5 linked regions of the Homo sapiens genome follow. The protein of the gene in region 2 purifies or fractionates together with the protein of the main gene of each other region. This does not show direct contact. Each region holds a gene or a part of one and is shown on either strand. Other genes may lie near its edges.

Region 1 (3,525 bases), on a different chromosome or scaffold from region 2:
CTTCTGTTTGCAGGAGCCACTCTCACTTGGCGTTGTCATCAGTCATTGGTAGGCTTTCTAAGTGCCTATCTTTCTTTTGCTGACAGGAAAGAAAAATTCAATTCTTCTGCAAAAGTTCCAGAAGGATCTGAACACTGGTGTTTTCAACAATCAGGAGAACGAAATCCTCAAGCAGATTGTGAAACATGACAGGGAGATGGTGCAGGCAATCGCTCCCATCAATTATCCTCAAATGACAACCCTGAATTCCACATCGTCTACTACGACCCCGACCTCCCGCATGAGGACACAATCTCCACCGGTGTACACAGCGACCAGCCTGTCTCACAGCAACCTGCACTCCCCCAGTCCCAGCACACAGACCCCCCAGCCATCAGCCATCCTGTCACCCTGCTCCTACACCACCGCGGTCTGCAGCCCTCCTGTACAGAGCCCTCTGGCCGCTCGAACTTTCCACTATGCCTCCCCCACCGCCTCCCAGCTGTCACTCATGCAACAGCAGCCGCAGCAGCAGGTACAGCAGTCCCAGCCGCCGCAGACTCAGCCACAGCAGCCGTCCCCGCAGCCACAGACACCTGGCAGCTCCACGCCGAAAAATGAAGTGCACAAGAGCACGCAGGCGCTTCACAACACCAACCTGACCCGGGAAGTCAGGCCACTCTCCGCCTCGCAGCCCTCGCTGCCCCATGAGGTGTCCACTCTGATTTCCAGACCTCATCCCACTGTGGGCGAGTCCCTGGCCTCCATCCCTCAACCCGTGACGGCGGTCCCCGGAACGGGCCTTCAGGCAGGGGGCAGGAGCACTGTCCCGCAGCGCGTCACCCTCTTCCGACAGATGTCGTCGGGAGCCATCCCCCCGAACCGAGGAGTCCCTCCAGCACCCCCTCCACCAGCAGCTGCTCTTCCAAGAGAATCTTCCTCAGTCTTAAACACAGACCCAGACGCAGAAAAGCCACGATTTGCTTCAAATTTATGATCCCTGCTGATTGTCAAAGCAGAAAGAAATACTCTCATAAACTGAGACTATACTCAGATCTTATTTTATTCTATCTCCTGATAGATCCCTCTAGCCTACTATGAAGAGATATTTTAGACAGCTGTGGCCTACACGTGAAATGTAAAAATATATATACATATACTATAAAATATATATCTAAATTCCCAAGAGAGGGTCAAAAGACCTGTTTAGCATTCAGTGTTATATGTCTTCCTTTCTTTAAATCATTAAAGGATTTAAAATGTCGTTGTAAGATTATTTATTTCTAACCTACTTTTACTTAAGTCCTTTGATATGTATATTTCTCTATTTTATGAAGAGTTCTTGGATTCAATGGAAACAAAACTGATTTTAAAAAGGCAACTCAAATGAACTAGTAAATAGCACCAATCAAAACTTTCTTTCATTAGCTGTGTCTCTGCATCTAAATTGTTAATCATTAATGGTGGAGAATTAAATAACAAATCCCATTTTATAGATCTAAATTGTATTTCGGTGCTTTCAATTTCAAATTAGGTTAAAGAATGCACTACTTGCTTGGCCACCGTAGGAGACTAGCATTGCCACTGTTTGTTAAGAATATCACTAACCTCAAACATGTTCATTGATCTTTCAGAAAGCTGAGGGAAAATTAATATTTGTCTTCATGTGTTATCGGACTTTTACCAAGACTCGATCAATGTTAGTTGTAAATAACTTTTTCAACCCAAATAAAAATAGCTATTCTGTGTTGTATGAAGGTAAAAGTCATTGTTTAAGAATTTAGTTTTATTGCTTCACTTCAAAACTTAGAGTTTTAAATTTTACAAAACCTGATTGTGAGAATTATTCAATTGTAATGCAATGGCTTGAAACCTACAATATTATTTTAACCTGCAATGTTTTATGCAAAATTGTATGCTCGAATCTACAAATTGCTTGTATTACACCAAAAATCGTTACTTTTCTTTCTTCTTGCCATAATCAAGCATCTGAAAATAGTCCCTGCATGCTTCTGGGGAAAAAAAAATAGGTTCAAATCAGTCATTGTAGAGAAAGGCTTACAGTATTTCTCGTTTCTAGAAAAGCATAACAATTCATTAATTGCCTATCTTATAATTCCTATAAGGCTGACTTGGATCTCTGACTTAAGTCTAGAAGTGAGGTTTTCACTTTTATTTAATATTATTGCTATTATTATTTAAATAATTATTTGTAAACCACAGCTTGATTTGGAGTTAAGTGTTGTCTGTGTCTTCACTGTAGCTGGTAATTTACTATGGTATTAATTTAAAGAAATAAATTCAATACAGCATCACGTCTGTTTGGGAACACACATTTTGCTCTATGTATATTGTAACTAAATGGTTAGTAAACTTTAAGGCATGTGGTGACTAACGTAGCCCTTAGATAGGAGGTTTGTCATTTTTAATGTGTTGAAAATAGTACAGACATGGTGACAGAAAGCAGGGGTAAAGTTGAACGTCTATGAGCATTGTCTGTCTGTTTTCTTAACTCTTTACATGATCTGTGAGCACCTGCTTCTTCTCAAAGAACTCCCTTAGTAATCATTTGTGCCTAATGCATCCCACACATGTGGAGTATGACTGGAACACAATTGAAAGATTCCTAACAACTGGCTGCGGTAAATAACCCAAGTTAAGAGCATGACTTAAAGTGGAGGTCTTCAGTATCTCTGGCACTGGCAATACATTTAAGAACATACAGAGATCACACATTATGTGGGACAGGGCCTGCAGATAGACTTGAGGACAGAAAACAAAAACAAAAGCAGAAACTCTAAAGTGGATCCTTGCTGCCTGTTATGCCTTTTGTGGATATAATACCTATAATACCAAAATGAGTTGTTATGTTTAATTTCAAACAAATCCCAACTGGTGTGGAAGTAATTAACTGCTAGTCGATGTAATGTAATCATCAATATGCTGGTGACATATGATGGCATGTCAGGAATACTGTTGTAAGAAAGGGATTGTTCAGTCTACCTAGAACCTATGGGAAAGCTGCAAGACCATTTACATATCAGTACAAAACTCCTTTATTTTATTAAAATATGAGAATTAACTTCAATTTATTAAGATTACGTATTGGTCCTTTAAATTATTAAAGGTTTACATTTGATAGGATTAATGGATTTGGTAGTGAAATATTTTTATATATATAAATTTTTGGTTTTTTATTTTGAGCACTATTGGGAAACATAAGCAAAATTGAAATGCATGGTCTTTCAGTGCAACCATACAATTTTTATTCACTTTGTAATAGAATGGACAAAAAAACTAAGGTTTATATATTAAACTAATAAAAAGGTACAGGGTAAATTATATACATATATGTATGAATGTATATATACTTAGATTAAGAAAAAAAAATGACTCACATTCCTGTAATATAAAGGTCCATTGCTAGTTGAAAAGTGACCTCTTTTCTCTGTACATAGTGAAGCCCGTATGTATGGAGTTTTAATCTGTACAGAAAGAAATGTATTATTCATTGGTCTTTCTGCTGCTGGAAAGATAATAGAATAG
Region 2 (3,525 bases):
AAAATACATACATAACATGGTAATATACTTTACAACCATAATGAAAAATATGGTTAAGCAATGTTAAGTGTTTCACTGTGAAAATGTATAAAGATTCATTACTTTTACTATCAAAAATGAGATTTTCAGTTTTACTAAAAATTTAGAAAATGTCATTAAAGCAACTTAAAGAAAAAAAAAGAAAATCAAGTATTAGTTAACACTGTAAATCTTTTCTGTTATGAGGAACTTATGTTATTGAGTAAATACAAAAACATCTATATCATCTACTCTAAATTATACTTCACTGGACTGGTTTTCGTACATAATAAAGGGGTTTCCTTTCTCTTCAGCTGAATGCAGCTATAAATAATATATACTTCGGGAGAAAAAATAAGAGTGGTGCTATATTACAATAATCTTGTTTTTATTAATATAAAATGTCAAAGTAGCTAAGAACCTAAATAGTAAGCCACATCTTTATAAAGTGGAAAAGCTTACTAGAAATCTTTGTTGCCTTAGGATAATGTTACAAAAAGAAAATAATTAAAGCTCTTGAGTGTATGTTTAATCACTCTAAAGCAGATCAAGAAGCCACCTTAGCCATAAATGATACAGCCTCTTTACCGTTTGTGTAATACATTTGGAAATAGTCTAGAAAAAATGGATTTCATGGGCCTGCTGACATCACTGCTAACCAGATACCTTTAGGGAAAACACAATCAAAAAATTTTATATTACTAATGGTTGAATCTTGCATAAGCATTCCCTGAAGGAGATATATATTCATTTTAACCTGCTCTCTTCCTACACAGCCTTTCAGAATAATTTTAACTACCTTAGGAGATATTTCAATATTCTATAAGAAATCAGAGCAGTTTTAGTTCTCCTTTCACCTAACACAAGAGAATGGAATTTCAGTAAGGCAAGCAAATAATTTATATAGAAATTAGAACTTCCTTGTTCTTTCAAAGCAAGGATTTGAAAAAAAAAAAACCTCTCTCTACCTTTAATATCAATGACCCTAACCCCAACAAAACCCCTTCTGTACCCCTATACTCTTTAGAGAGGTCCAAACTAGAGATTAATATGCTGTAATATAAATCACTGTATTGTCCTCTAGTTATTTTGTAAATAAAATTAAATGCTTTGCTTCTATTTAGATTTGCTAGCTCTCAGAAGAGATGTATCATCTCCTGATTCTTTCAGTTTCCACAGACGCTTACATGATACTTGCCATCACATGTGGTTCATGAGTTTACGAAAATTGGCCAAAACATTAATGAGGAAGAAATATTAATTTATATTTAAAAAGCCACTACTGACAATGACTTTCTGATTAAAATTCTGACCAGTTTTCGAAGAACATTTTGTTTGTAAAAATCCATTAATTTTAATAAAAAAGTAAAAAAGCACTGACATTAATAATCTTGTGGTAGCTTTAAGATCAGAATTTGATAATACAACCAAATGAAAAAGAAAGGTTTAAACAAATAGTCTTTTAAACAACATACTTGTATGTTCTGAAAATGAAAAGGACCAAAAAATTCAATGAATCGTAAGGGAGAAAGCTAAAAAATACTTTTGGAAAGAAAAAAATTCTATTTGTCTTGCTACACTGTTTAACATAGCTCATTAGAAGCAAAGCTGGAAAGGACCAGTTCACCATCTTATGACAACTTAATTAGCAAATCATACTACACAGGAAAGGATAAGGTGACTGAAAAATTCTCAGGACCAACAAAATGGCCAGATTTTAAGATTACAAAAAGTATTACAAAAATATAAAATTGATGTAAAACAAATTTTAAAAACTACATGAAGTAATTATTTAGAAAAACATGGGTACAGAAAATATCCTGAGAAAACTTACAAACGAGATAAAATGCTAGTGCTTCTACTCACAGAGAATCATTTCTGACCAGCTGTCCATTTTGGCGAACAGCATTTTCACTCATAGACCGCTCTCTTTTTAGTCTGCCAACTGCTCGGATCTGTTAAGGCACAAAGAGAGGGAAGGAAATAGAAATATTCTTAGTAGGCTAGTAGCTGCTTAGCATCAAAAGAACCTCGATACAAGGCTACTCAAAAAACTTACAACGAACTAAGAAAAGGCAACCAAGAATTGCTGCCAGGCAGTGTATTACTGACAGACTTGCTTTAAAAACAAAACAAGACACACACACACACACACCCTACTTACTATAATGCAGATAAACAGGAATGTCTATTTACTTTAAGAACGCTACTCTAGTTTCTTTTTAAGTATCAATTTTACTTGGTACAATTATTATTTGTTTAACCTTATGGTATATACTTATTTATAAGAACAATTTATAAAAGTGTTTACAGGCACATATAGGAAATGGAGAGCATCTGTATTATAAATAAACCTTCCTGGCTTCTACGGTTGTAACAAATTAAGATTTGGTTGAATATTTGAAAACTAGACTAAAAATGTATCTAGCTTAATGGTTTTGGCATTCCAGAATGGCTGCAATCTCTAATCCCACATGCTCTTCTTATGAAATGTATCTTTGACCTTCTTCATTAAGAGACAGGATCTGTTTCTTTCCCCTGAAATTCAGAGGGCTGGTGACTCCTATAGAAATGATGCAAAGTGACTTCTGAGGCTAGGTCATAACAGTACAGCTTCTGCCTTTCTTTCCCCAGGTTGCTCATATTTGGAAGAATGGCACCATGACACAAGGAAGGCCAAGTAGCCACACAGTGAGGCCATGTGTAAGTGCACCTGCCAACAACCCTAATGGAGGTCCCAGACAACAGCTAGTACCAAGTGACATGTGAGTGAGCAAACCTTCAGATAACTGCAGATCCAGCTGTTGAGTTATCCTTTGCCTTTGAGACTTCCTAGCTTAGGCCCCAGACATTGAAGAACAGAAACAAGCTTTTCCCTTCACGGCAACTGCAAATACCTAACCCACAGAATGCTTGAGCAAAACATAGGCTTGTTTGTTTTAAGCCACTAAGTTTAAGATGATTTGTTACACAGAAATGGATAACTAGAACAGTGATAATCATTAACTTTTCTGCTTATTTGAAAATACCTTTTTTTTTTTTTTTGAGATAGGATCTTGCTCTGTCATCCAGGCTGGAGTGCAGTGGCATGCTCATGGCTCGTTGCAGCCTCAGCCTCCTGGGCTCAAGTGATCCTTCCATTTTAGCCTCTGAAGTAGCTGGGACTATAGGCACACACCACCGCACCTGGCTAATTTTTGTATTTTGTAGAGATGGGGGTTTTGCCATGTTCCCCAGGCTGGTCTCGAACTCCTGAGCTCAAGTGTTCTGCCCACCTTGGCCTCCCAAAGTGTTGGGATTACAGGTGTGAGCCACTGAGCCCAACAAAAATACTAAAAAAAACAAAACAAACAAAAAACCCCCCACTAAAATAGCCATGGCAACATTATGGTTTTTTTTTTTGTTTTTTTTTGAGACAGAGTCTTGTTCTGTCGCCCAGGCTGCAATGCAGTGGCACAATCTCGGCTTGACTCACTGCAAACTCTGCCTCCCGGGTTCAAGCAATTC
Region 3 (3,500 bases), about 93 Mb from region 2:
ATTTCATTAAAGATGCAAGCATGTAAAGGGTTTTTTAGTTTGTTTTGTTTTTCCACTTTTTTTTTGTGTCTCTCTTCCTACAAATAGGGAAATATGGTCAAGGAATAGGAATGGTTTCTTTTTTCTTTTTCTTTTTTTTTTTTTTTTGAGGGCTGGGACTGTTGTGGGATAATGTGGAAAACCACTGTTGCCAAAGTAGAAATCCCCTGCCCTTGAGGGAAATACACTGTTCTTGAAGTGAAAATGGTAGGGAAAAAAATAGCTGGGCTGTTCAGTGTGTCTGAGAAGGCTTTTAGTTACTGTATGGTGACGTGGCTGGTGTGATTAAAGAAAGGGCTTTCTGCTTTAAAAAGCTTGGAACCTAAAAATGGGCCTCTCTGTGGCTTGGGACTTTTCCAGCCATCCTGTGGTAGAGTCCAGCCTGCCCAGTATCCTCATCAAAGCCAGGCCAAGTTCACAAGCACGCCCAGGCCAGTCAAAAGGTCTGAGGAAGACCTCAGAAATGTTTTAGACAGGAGGAGTAAACTCAGAATAAGGGGCTCATTCTTCTACCCCTCAGTCATTAAGACCCTTTCTTTCATGCAGCACCACTACTTCAAGTCTGGATTGAGGAGGGATTGCACGCACATGTGTGAGGTTGGAGTCTCAATCTCAATGTGATTGTCATTGCCATGTTCAAACGATGAGGCTTAGAATGTCCCTTGTCTTACCTGATGGTCATAGCTCTCTATGACCCTCTGCTTCTTCCCAGCTGTGTCCTGGTGCTCTTTTGCTGTCAGAAGTGCTTGAGCAGACCTCTTGCTGCTGTGGACACCCTAAAAAGCTCCGCACCCCCTCAAGTCTACTAAGGCATGGTGGCTCTCTTCTAGGACAAGACTGTTGGGTGGTGGCTGAGCATTCGCCTGTCTTTGAGCGTCTGCATTTGCTCTCCCCCACCCCTTCCTCTCTTCCTTCTTTGTTTGTAAATAAAGTTGGTTAGAACACAGCCATGCGCATTCCATTCTGTTTCAGAGAAGTTAGCCTTCCCTCCTTCACAGGAGGGCCCAAACCCACTGTTACTCTCATTCTTTATAACACTCAAGCTACTTAGCATCAAGTATTTGTTGTATGAGCTGATCATGTGTCTCTCCCACTTACAATGTAAGTTCTGAAAGAGGAGGGACTTTGGTCTGTTTTGTTCCCCACTGTGCCCCAGAGCTTAGTACCTTTTGCCTGGCACATAGTAAGAGCCATGAATGAATAGCAGCAGCCCCTGGTGAAACTCTGTGATGCTCTGTGTGGTACAGTTACAGCTGGGACTCATTTGAAAATCACAGTAATGTTTTTAGTGAAGCAGGAAATGAGAAGAAATTCCCTATGGGCTCTGCATCTAAGAGGCTCCAAGTAGCTCTTATGCATGATCCTAACATGGGAACCATTGTTTATTCTGGAAGGTAGTTAGTGTTTCTGTTGGGCGGATGGAACACATTGTGTTCCTTACTGATGTGTGACCTTGAACAAGTCACCGATCATCTTAAAGCTTACTTCCTCTTTTGTAAAACAGACAATATAATATCATTTAACCTCATAGGCTTGTTGTAAGGATTACAAATGACAAAGTTTATTAAGGCACTTAGATTAATTTAGATTATTCTTGTTCTTTTTTTTTGGTGTTGTTTTTGTTTTATTTTGTTTTGTTTTGTTTTGGAGATAGAGTCTTGCTCTGTCACCAAGGCTGAAGTACAGTAGTGTGATCAGGCTCTAGCAACCTCCCCCTCCCAGACTCAAGCCTTATGCCCACCTCAGCCTCCAGAGTAGCTGGGACTATAGGCATGTGCCACCACACTAGGCTAATTTAAAACAAAAGTTTTTTTCTGAAGATGGAGTCTCACTGTATTGCCCAGGCTGGTCTCAAACTCCTGGCCTCAAGTGATCCTCCCATCTCAGCCTCCAGAGTAGCTGGGACTATAGGCATGTGCCACCACACTAGGCTAATTTAAAACAAAAGTTTTTTTTCTAAAGATGGAATCTCACTGTATTGCCCAGGCTGGTCTCAAACTCCTGGCCTCAAGCGATCCTCCCACCTCAGCCTTCCAAAGTGCTGGGATTACAGGTGTGAGCCACTGTGCCCAACCAGCGCTTAATTAAAATGCATTCATTCCTATTAGTAATCACTAACTCTGGCTTGAATGTACCTGCATCTGTTACCACCCAGGCATAACTGTTCATGTAGATCTGACGTTGTTCATTTGTTTGAACACAGGGCTTCAGCAACCTGTTTATGTAGCTATTCTTAGCATTTACAGGGGTAGAGCCTGACCAGACATGAGAGGAAATATGCTCTGTTTCAGAAGAGGTCAGGCTTGCCACCACCCTACTAAACTAGGAGATGTGGTTGTCATTGCCCTGTTCAAAAGATACAGTTTTCTTCTGTGGGCTGTAAGATAAGCTGGGTATGGCCAAGTTCACCTTTGGATCTAACCAGGGCATTGGTGGTGGTGGTGTTTCTGGCATGGTACAGCAAGCAGGAAGCAGTAGTGTGCGAGGCCACCCTTTCCAAGAAGGTGCGGGCCCTGGCATCAGGTGGGGGACAATGGATAACAATAGGCTTGACCTCTCAGCACTTCTCTGATTCCTTATCTTTTCTATAAAAAAGGCTAAAATTCTTGGTTCCTATTCCCTGCAGCTGGCTACATGTTAGGAAAATTCAAAGAATAGCTTAAGAACTCTATTCAGGTTCCATAAAGCACTTAATATCATCAACAGGCCTAGAAAGGATCTTTTACCAGATTTCGATGCATGGAAACTTCCTCAATAGTAATGACACCCTCTGCAACACCTTAGGAAAAACATTCGCTTCTGGGCACAAGTTCTGGTGAAAGCTTAAATCTGTAGTTCTAACCCAGAAGAGAAGGCTAGTCAGTGTTGCTGAGCATCTGAGCTGCTCTTTGACTTTGGTGATAATTGTTTTATGCCCTTTTCTGTCCAGAATCTGCTGACTGGGACAACTGCAGGGTGGAAGCCACCTTTTTGTCAGTTCAGGAGCAGGCAAATTATCTAACATGTGGCTTTAAAATTCAAATGAGATAAGGCAGTAAGGGTCACTAAGATGTTTCTGGTGGGTATTGCCTTACATGACTTTAGGGTACTGGTGGCACTATCTTTGATTCTTAAGAGTACAATTCATTGTACTATGTATATATATTTAAAATAACACTTAATGCCTTTGTGACTTTGAAAATAATGTGAATTTTTATGTAAAATTAAAGCATATGAGGAAGTATGGAGAAGAATAAAGAATAAATACACTCTTTACCTCTAAATGCAGATCTTACCAGATAAAATTGATTTCCCTTTAGTTCTTTAAAAAAAAAAAGTGATACGTACATGTGTGTATATGTGTATATATGTACATGAATATATGCTTTTTTAAAAATTAAGATACTGCATTTCCTTATGCCATTAGGTTTTTTTTTTTTTTTTTTTTTTGAGATGGAGTTTCACTCTTGTTGCCCAGGCTG
Region 4 (3,525 bases), on a different chromosome or scaffold from region 2:
CACAACTCCTTTGGTCTTTGTGTCTTCATTTATTAAAATGATAATCATTAAGGTTTTTCTAGTCCTGAGCCTTCTGTTATTCTGTCTGGAGATAAGATATTTAACTGTCTTTTTCATATTTTAGGACCCAGATGATGTGGTACCAGTTGGCCAAAGAAGAGCCTGGTGTTGGTGCATGTGCTTTGGACTAGCATTTATGCTTGCAGGTGTTATTCTAGGAGGAGCATACTTGTACAAATATTTTGCACTTCAAGTAAGTGGAAAAATTATTTTGTGTCTCTGATTTTTTTTTTTTTTTGCCTCTCCCGATGTGCATTACAAAATTGTTTACAACTTGCGCTAAGCTTGTACTTTTTATCTGTGACCTTCAGCCAGAGTGGTAGTTCTATTTTAAAGCTGTGTTTAAACATCTCTCCATGATATGTTTGCTGAGCCCATCACACACAGTCACTAAAAGCAGAGTAACTTGAAATGTTGGTGACTAAGGGATTTATTTAGGTCATTGGGTGATTTTACTAACCTTTATTTTCCTACTATAATTAAGGGTTGAGAGGAATAGTATTATCAATTGCCAGTTGAATAAATACATCAGCCACAAATGTTTTCATGTTGATAGGCCATAACTTGATAGTCAGCTTGGACTCCCCTATGGTCCTGCTGTACCCTTGGGCCCAGAATACAGTAAGACCATGTCTCTGCTTCTTTTCCAGTCATGGTTTCACTAAAGAACTGGGTGACTTCAGCAGTGATATTGAAATAACATAGGATGAAAGTTGTTTATAACTTTGAGTGTTTAATAGTAATCCCAGTGGGTTAAGACAAAGGTCTTCCTTGTGATTGATTATAATTTACAATCTATTTTGTAATATATTTCTCTTGGCAATAATACACAATTTTTTTTTTTAGGAGTTTTGAAGGGGAAATTACTTTCAAGGTTTTATGACTACTTCAGCTGTTTCAAAATTTGGAGAAACAGTTGACAACTAGACTTATTAAAATAATTTAACTAATTTTGAAACATTCTCAATTTCATGCTCATTTTCTGTGTTGTTCAAGATAATCAATCACATGTTGATAGACATTACCAAAATACTAGTCATCTTTTTAAATACAGTTTTATTTACAAGAAATACATATAGTATAGAAAAAATCATCGCAATTCCATTTTCCAGAGATAACATTTGGTGCATTAACTTTTTTTTTTTTCTTGAGACAGAGTTTCTCTCTTGTTGCCCAGACTGGAGTCCAATGGCGCGATCTCGGCTCACTGCACCCTCTGTCTCCCGGGTTCAGGCAATTCTCCTGCCTCAGCCTCCCAAGTAGCTGAGATTACAGGCACCTGCCACCACTCCTGGCTAATTTTTGTACTTTTAGTAGAGACAGGGTTTCATCATGTTGGCCAGGCTGGTCTCAAACTCCTGACCTCAGGCGATCCACCCACCTTGGCCTCCCAAAGTGCTAGGATTACAGGCGTGACACACCATGCCTGGCCCTGTGCATTCACATTTTGTATACCCTTAGTCTTTATTGTGTGTGTAGTGTGTGTAGTGTGTGTGTGTGTGTGTGTGTGTGCGCGCGCGTGTGCGTGCGCGCACGTGTACATGTACTGTGTGTTTGGCTTTTTTTGAGATGGGGTCTCACTCTGTCATCCAGGCTGGAGTGCGGTGGTGCAATCACAGCTCACTGTAGCCTCAACCTCTTGGGCTCAGGCAATCCTCCCGCCTCAACCTCCCCAGGAGTAGCTAGGACTACAGGTGCGTGGCACCATACCCAGCTAATTTTTTTATTTTTTGTGGAGACAGGGTCTCACCATGTTGCCCAGGCTGGTCTTGAACTCCTGGGCTCAAGCAGTCCATCTGTCTCAGGCCTCCTCCCCACAAAGTATTAGGATTACAGGCATGAGTTACTGCACCCGACCTTATGTACTGTTTTTTCTTTTTGTAAAAGTGAGACAGTAGCATAAAGATTTGCTGTAATCTAATATTTTCCACTGAATTGTGATATAAAGGGAAAAGTAGAACTACGTATATGCATATAGAAATTTCAGAAAAATTATCCCTTTTTTGGCTAATAAGAAAAAAGTCATTTAATTAGTAGACCATATCAAAACTTTTTAATATATTCTTTCAGAAAAACTTGACTAGTTTTGGAATGTATTCTTCTATAAAAACTGCTTACAGGTAGAGTAGGTCTGTTGTTTCTTTATATTTATTTGTTACTGGATAGCTAATTATTTTTATGTTCTATTTTCACCTACCAGGAAAAGTAAAGGGAAAACCAGCTGCCTTTCTTCTGAAGCTGTTCTTTTACAGTGCTTCAAAACCTGATCTTAAAGAATATGTTAACTCTGTAATTAAACTGTCTGACTTGTCATCTAAAAGCAAGAGTTTGCAAGCAAAATGCTATTTAGATAGAGGTGGCAGCTTAAGTAATGCTTATTTAAAAACCTGTCTCATGCTGAATTGCTGAAATGAGTCTTTAAACTCTCTATAGCCAGATGACGTGTACTACTGTGGAATAAAGTACATCAAAGATGATGTCATCTTAAATGAGCCCTCTGCAGATGCCCCAGCTGCTCTCTACCAGACAATTGAAGAAAATATTAAAATCTTTGAAGAAGAAGAAGTTGAATTTATCAGTGTGCCTGTCCCAGAGTTTGCAGATAGTGATCCTGCCAACATTGTTCATGACTTTAACAAGGTGAGCCAAGTGTCCAGAATTGTAGAAAGAATGCAGGTTCTGTAGTTTATGCTTTTTGTAGTTTTAATTTCAATATTTGCTAATTTATTATATTTAGAGTTTAGTTTAATAAACTGTCAGCATTTGGTGGGCTCTGCTATGTCTGAAGCAGACCCTGCTGATGCAGCCTTCTCATATCTTATCTCTCCTTCCCCTTGCCTTACCTACTCTTAAAGCCCACCTCATGACTGTTCCTCCTTTGCTGGCAAACTAATATTTTTTATATGTTCCCACATTTTCTTAGATAAGAGGTAATTTATGTTCCTGTTTCTTGGTAGCATTTTCAAAATCAATAATTTTGTTAATCTGTTTTTAAGTTCTCATTCTATATTTTTCCCCAGCTTTTGAGCATTTTTATGTAATGCAGAAAAGTTGAATACCCAAAATCCTCCACTTTGTTCCAAATATTGCCATATTTGCTTCATCTCTTTTTCTGTCATTTGACATAAGTACTTATGCTATTATCTCTCAAGAATGAGTTGTCCTCCTACGTAACCACATAATTATCACATCTAAGAAAATTAACATGATCTTATAGGACAGTAGTCCCCCCTTATCCGTGGGGGATACATGCCAAGACCCCCAGTGGATGTCTGAAACTGCATATAGTACCAAACCCTGTATATACTATGTTTTTTCCTGTTAGTGTACATATATACATATGTTAAAATTTAATTTACAAATTAGCCACAGTAATAGATTAACGACAATAATAATAAAACAGTTATAACAAAATACTATAATAAAAGTTATGTGAAGGTGGTTTCTCAAAATATTTTATTATGC
Region 5 (3,525 bases), on a different chromosome or scaffold from region 2:
TTGAACCTCCTCAATTTTTCTTTATGTTTCAAGTACTGATCCAGCCCCCAGAAGGCCACTTAGATAAGGACAGAGTCACTAAGCAGAAACCTGATAGGCCAACATTGAGGCCAAGGGCTTATGGCTACCATCTGGCATAGTTCTTATTGGAGTACTTCTTCCATCAAAACAGTCTACAATCTAAAAACTTTTAAATCTTAATTTCTAGGCCACTATATTAATTTTCTATTAATCACTTAAAAAAAACACAAAACTTGAAATTCACCAAATTAACAACTAGAGAGTTGTTTTTTGTTTTTTGCTTTTGAGACAGGGTCTCGCTCTGTTGCCCCGGCTTGCAGTACAGTAGCACGATCTCAGCTCACTGCAGCCTCGGCCTTCCGGGCTCAAGCAATCCTCCCACCTTAGCTTTCTGAATAGCCTGGAACTACAAGTGCACACCACCAGGCCTAGCTAATTTTTGTACTTTTTTTTTTTTAGAGGGGTCTCATTACGTTGCCCAGTCTGGTCTCACGTGATCCTCCTGCCTCATCACGTGATCACCTGGCCTCACGTGATCCTCCTGCCTCAGCCTTTCCAAAGGGATGGCAGGTGTGAGCCACTGTGCCTGGTCTGGAGTTTTAAAGGCAAAAAATAAAATAATCATCATCATTGTTATTTTGGCCTAAGATAAACCTTGAATATTTTTAAGATTCCCAGGAGAAAGTGCTCAACCAACTGCAGAAGTCACAAAAGTAATTAGTCTATATGGCACAAAAGTAGAATAACTAAGGAGAGGGGACACACTTAAAATGAAGTATCAGTAAAGTACTAGACCTGAAGAAGGGCAACAGAGTGTGATCCAACTATCACCACCTCCAAGTGGATTCCTATAGCTGCTTGTCAAGTGGTTTGCCAGACTCCTCTCCAACCCTACTTCAATCCATTCTTCTCAGAGCAGTCAAATATTCTTCCAAAAACAAAACTCATAATTCGAAGACATTTTGCCAATAAAAAAAAATGCTCAACCTCATTAATCATAGGGAAATGTATATTAAAACCACTATGAGGCCAGGCACAGTGGCTCACACCTGTAATCCCAGCACTTTGGGAGGCCAAGGCAGGCAGATCACGAGGTCAGGAGATCGAGACCATCCTGGCTAACATGATGAAACCCCGTCTCTACTAAAAATACAAAAAATTAGCTGGGTGTGGTGGCGGGCACCTGTAGTCCCAGCTACTTGGGAGGCTGAGGCAGGAGAATGGCGTGAACCCAGGAGGCGGAGCTTGCAGTAAGCAGAGATCACGCGACTGCACTCCAGCCTGGGCGACAGAGCAAGACTCGGTCTCAAAAACATAAATAAATAAATAAATAAAACCACTATGAAATACCACTTCATACCCATTAGGATAGTTATCACACACACACACACACAAAAAAAAACAGAAAACAAGTGTTGGCAAGGATGTGAACAAATCGAAACTCTTCTGCTCTGCTGGTGGGCACATAAAATGGTGTGGCTGCTGGGGAAGACAGTATGGCATTTCCTCAAAAACTTAAACATAGGATTATCATACAATCTGTAATTGAACTTCTGGATATATACACAAAAGAAATGAAAGCAGAAACCCAAAGGGATATGTGTATGCCAGTGTTCATTGCAGCATTATTCATAACAGCCAAAAGGTGGAAACAACCCAAGTGTCCATCAACAGATAAACAGATAAATAAAATGTGGTATCTACATACAATGGAATATTATTCAGCCCTAAGGAAGTAAGATGTTCTGATACATGCTACCACATGGAAGAAGAGAATGGAAAGTTATGATTTAATGGGTACAGAGTTTCAGATGGAGATGATGAAGAAGCTCTGGAGATGGATGGTAGTGATGGTTGCATGATGATGTGAACGTACTTAATGTCACTGAACTGTACACTTAAATGTTAAAATGATAAATTTTAGATTATGTATTTTTTTACCACACACACACACACACACACACACACACACACACACACACACAAGCATATCACATTCTCCTGCTTAAAAACCTTTCAACAGTTTCACACTGCACTTAGAATCTAACATGCAAACTCAGTACCAACCTTTACAACATGCAATCCACAAGCCCTACATAATCTGACTTCTACCCATTTCTCTTTGTCCTAATCTCATACCACTTCCCTCTTGCTCACCATGCTAAACCCATGCTAGGGAAAACACATTAAATTCTTTCTGACCTCAGGGTCTATACAATTGCTATTCCCTAGCTTGGAGTACTTTCCCTACAACCTGTTCCTTTTCATCCTTTAGTACTTAGTTCAAATGTCATCGCTTCAAAATGTTTTCAAAAAGTTGCACTCCAATTCCTATCCCACTCTAGCCACAAGGTACTCTCTATCATTTTCTTTTTTTTTTTTTTTTTGAGACGAAGTCTTGCTCTGTCGCCCAGGCTGGAGTGCAGTGGCTCAATCTCGGCTCACTGCAAGCTCCACCTCCTGGGTTCACACCATTCTCCTGCCTCAGCGTCCCAAGTAGCTGGGACTACAGGCGCCCGCCACCACACCCGGCTAATTTTTTGTATTTTTTTAGTAGAGACGGGGTTTCACCATGTTAGCCAGGATGGTCTCGATCTCCTGACCTTGTGATCCACCCGCCTCAGCCTCCCAAAGTGCTGGGATTACAGGTGTGAGCCACCGCACCTGGCCCTATCATTTTCTATATGAAATTATAGTATATCTTTAAAACCTTGTAAAAGTTATTTTATCTCCCTAAGGCCTGATATCCTCACTTATATAATGGGGACAACAATACCTATTTAATACTGGTAAAGAATAACTGACATACTACTCAATAAATATTAATCTTTATCATTAGTGTCAGGCATTTATGCAACAATGCTACTAATTCTTGGTAATCTGAGTAACATTAGGTAATACAGGAAATGTCTTAACAGACTCAAATAAAACTCCTGATTAGCTCTCATGGGCCTCCACAACCCAGTCTCCAAAGACCAAGTTTATTTCTCATTAGTCACAAAAATATCTCCTCCAATCCAGCCAGTCTTCTCTCTGCTTCATACAATAGTAATAATTATATCTTACATTTATATGATAATTTTATTTACCCAGCATGTGTCTTACCTGTTTGCTGACATCCTCTCATTCAGTTAATAACAGTCAGCTCTCAGAGAGGCTACAGGCTTGAAAAGGTTTCTACTCAGAATTTGTGGACAACATGAAAATGTCATTGGTATTAAGTCACTGGAGCATTACCTAGTCCTAAAAGATGACATAATAGCATGTTGCTGATGAGAACAGTTCATCTTCCAAGTAGTCTGAAAGGAGACGAGGTAAAATACCTGTTTAAATCTTACCTCGGATAGAATGATTTCAAAACCTCCTTACCTTATTCTACCCCACACTGATCTTCTTCTAACTCCCACAGCATGTTACTTCATACCAATTAATTTTATATATCACACATCCAAGCATGTGTGTAAGCCATGTCTCCCTGATTAAGTCCCAGGTCCCTTATGGGCA

Evidence for each region.
Region 1: the proteins of MFF (region 2) and HCN1 purify together in Homo sapiens (co-immunoprecipitation; one large-scale study listed by IntAct). This does not show direct contact.
Region 3: the proteins of MFF (region 2) and MGAT5 purify together in Homo sapiens (affinity purification with mass spectrometry; 2 studies listed by BioGRID and IntAct, with this or other methods). This does not show direct contact.
Region 4: the proteins of MFF (region 2) and ITM2B purify together in Homo sapiens (co-immunoprecipitation; one large-scale study listed by IntAct). This does not show direct contact.
Region 5: the proteins of MFF (region 2) and CCDC126 purify together in Homo sapiens (affinity purification with mass spectrometry; 2 studies listed by BioGRID and IntAct, with this or other methods). This does not show direct contact.

The regions. Positions count from the first base shown.
Region 1 is NC_000005.10:45,259,372-45,262,896, reverse strand, and holds part of HCN1 (potassium/sodium hyperpolarization-activated cyclic nucleotide-gated channel 1), read left to right. Parts: intron 1-86; coding exon 87-976; 3' UTR 977-3,525. UniProt on the Homo sapiens protein: Hyperpolarization-activated ion channel that are permeable to sodium and potassium ions. Displays lower selectivity for K(+) over Na(+) ions.
Region 2 is NC_000002.12:227,338,740-227,342,264, reverse strand, and holds part of MFF (mitochondrial fission factor), read right to left. Parts: intron 1,974-3,525; coding exon 1,885-1,973; intron 1-1,884. UniProt on the Homo sapiens protein: Plays a role in mitochondrial and peroxisomal fission. Promotes the recruitment and association of the fission mediator dynamin-related protein 1 (DNM1L) to the mitochondrial surface.
Region 3 is NC_000002.12:134,260,572-134,264,071, forward strand, and holds part of MGAT5 (alpha-1,6-mannosylglycoprotein 6-beta-N-acetylglucosaminyltransferase A), read left to right. Parts: intron 1-3,500. UniProt on the Homo sapiens protein: Catalyzes the addition of N-acetylglucosamine (GlcNAc) in beta 1-6 linkage to the alpha-linked mannose of biantennary N-linked oligosaccharides.
Region 4 is NC_000013.11:48,253,684-48,257,208, forward strand, and holds part of ITM2B (integral membrane protein 2B), read left to right. Parts: intron 1-124; coding exon 125-253; intron 254-2,493; coding exon 2,494-2,700; intron 2,701-3,525. UniProt on the Homo sapiens protein: Plays a regulatory role in the processing of the amyloid-beta A4 precursor protein (APP) and acts as an inhibitor of the amyloid-beta peptide aggregation and fibrils deposition. Plays a role in the induction of neurite outgrowth.
Region 5 is NC_000007.14:23,603,881-23,607,405, reverse strand, and holds part of CCDC126 (coiled-coil domain-containing protein 126 precursor), read right to left. Parts: intron 3,321-3,525; exon of another isoform or gene 3,127-3,320; intron 1-3,126.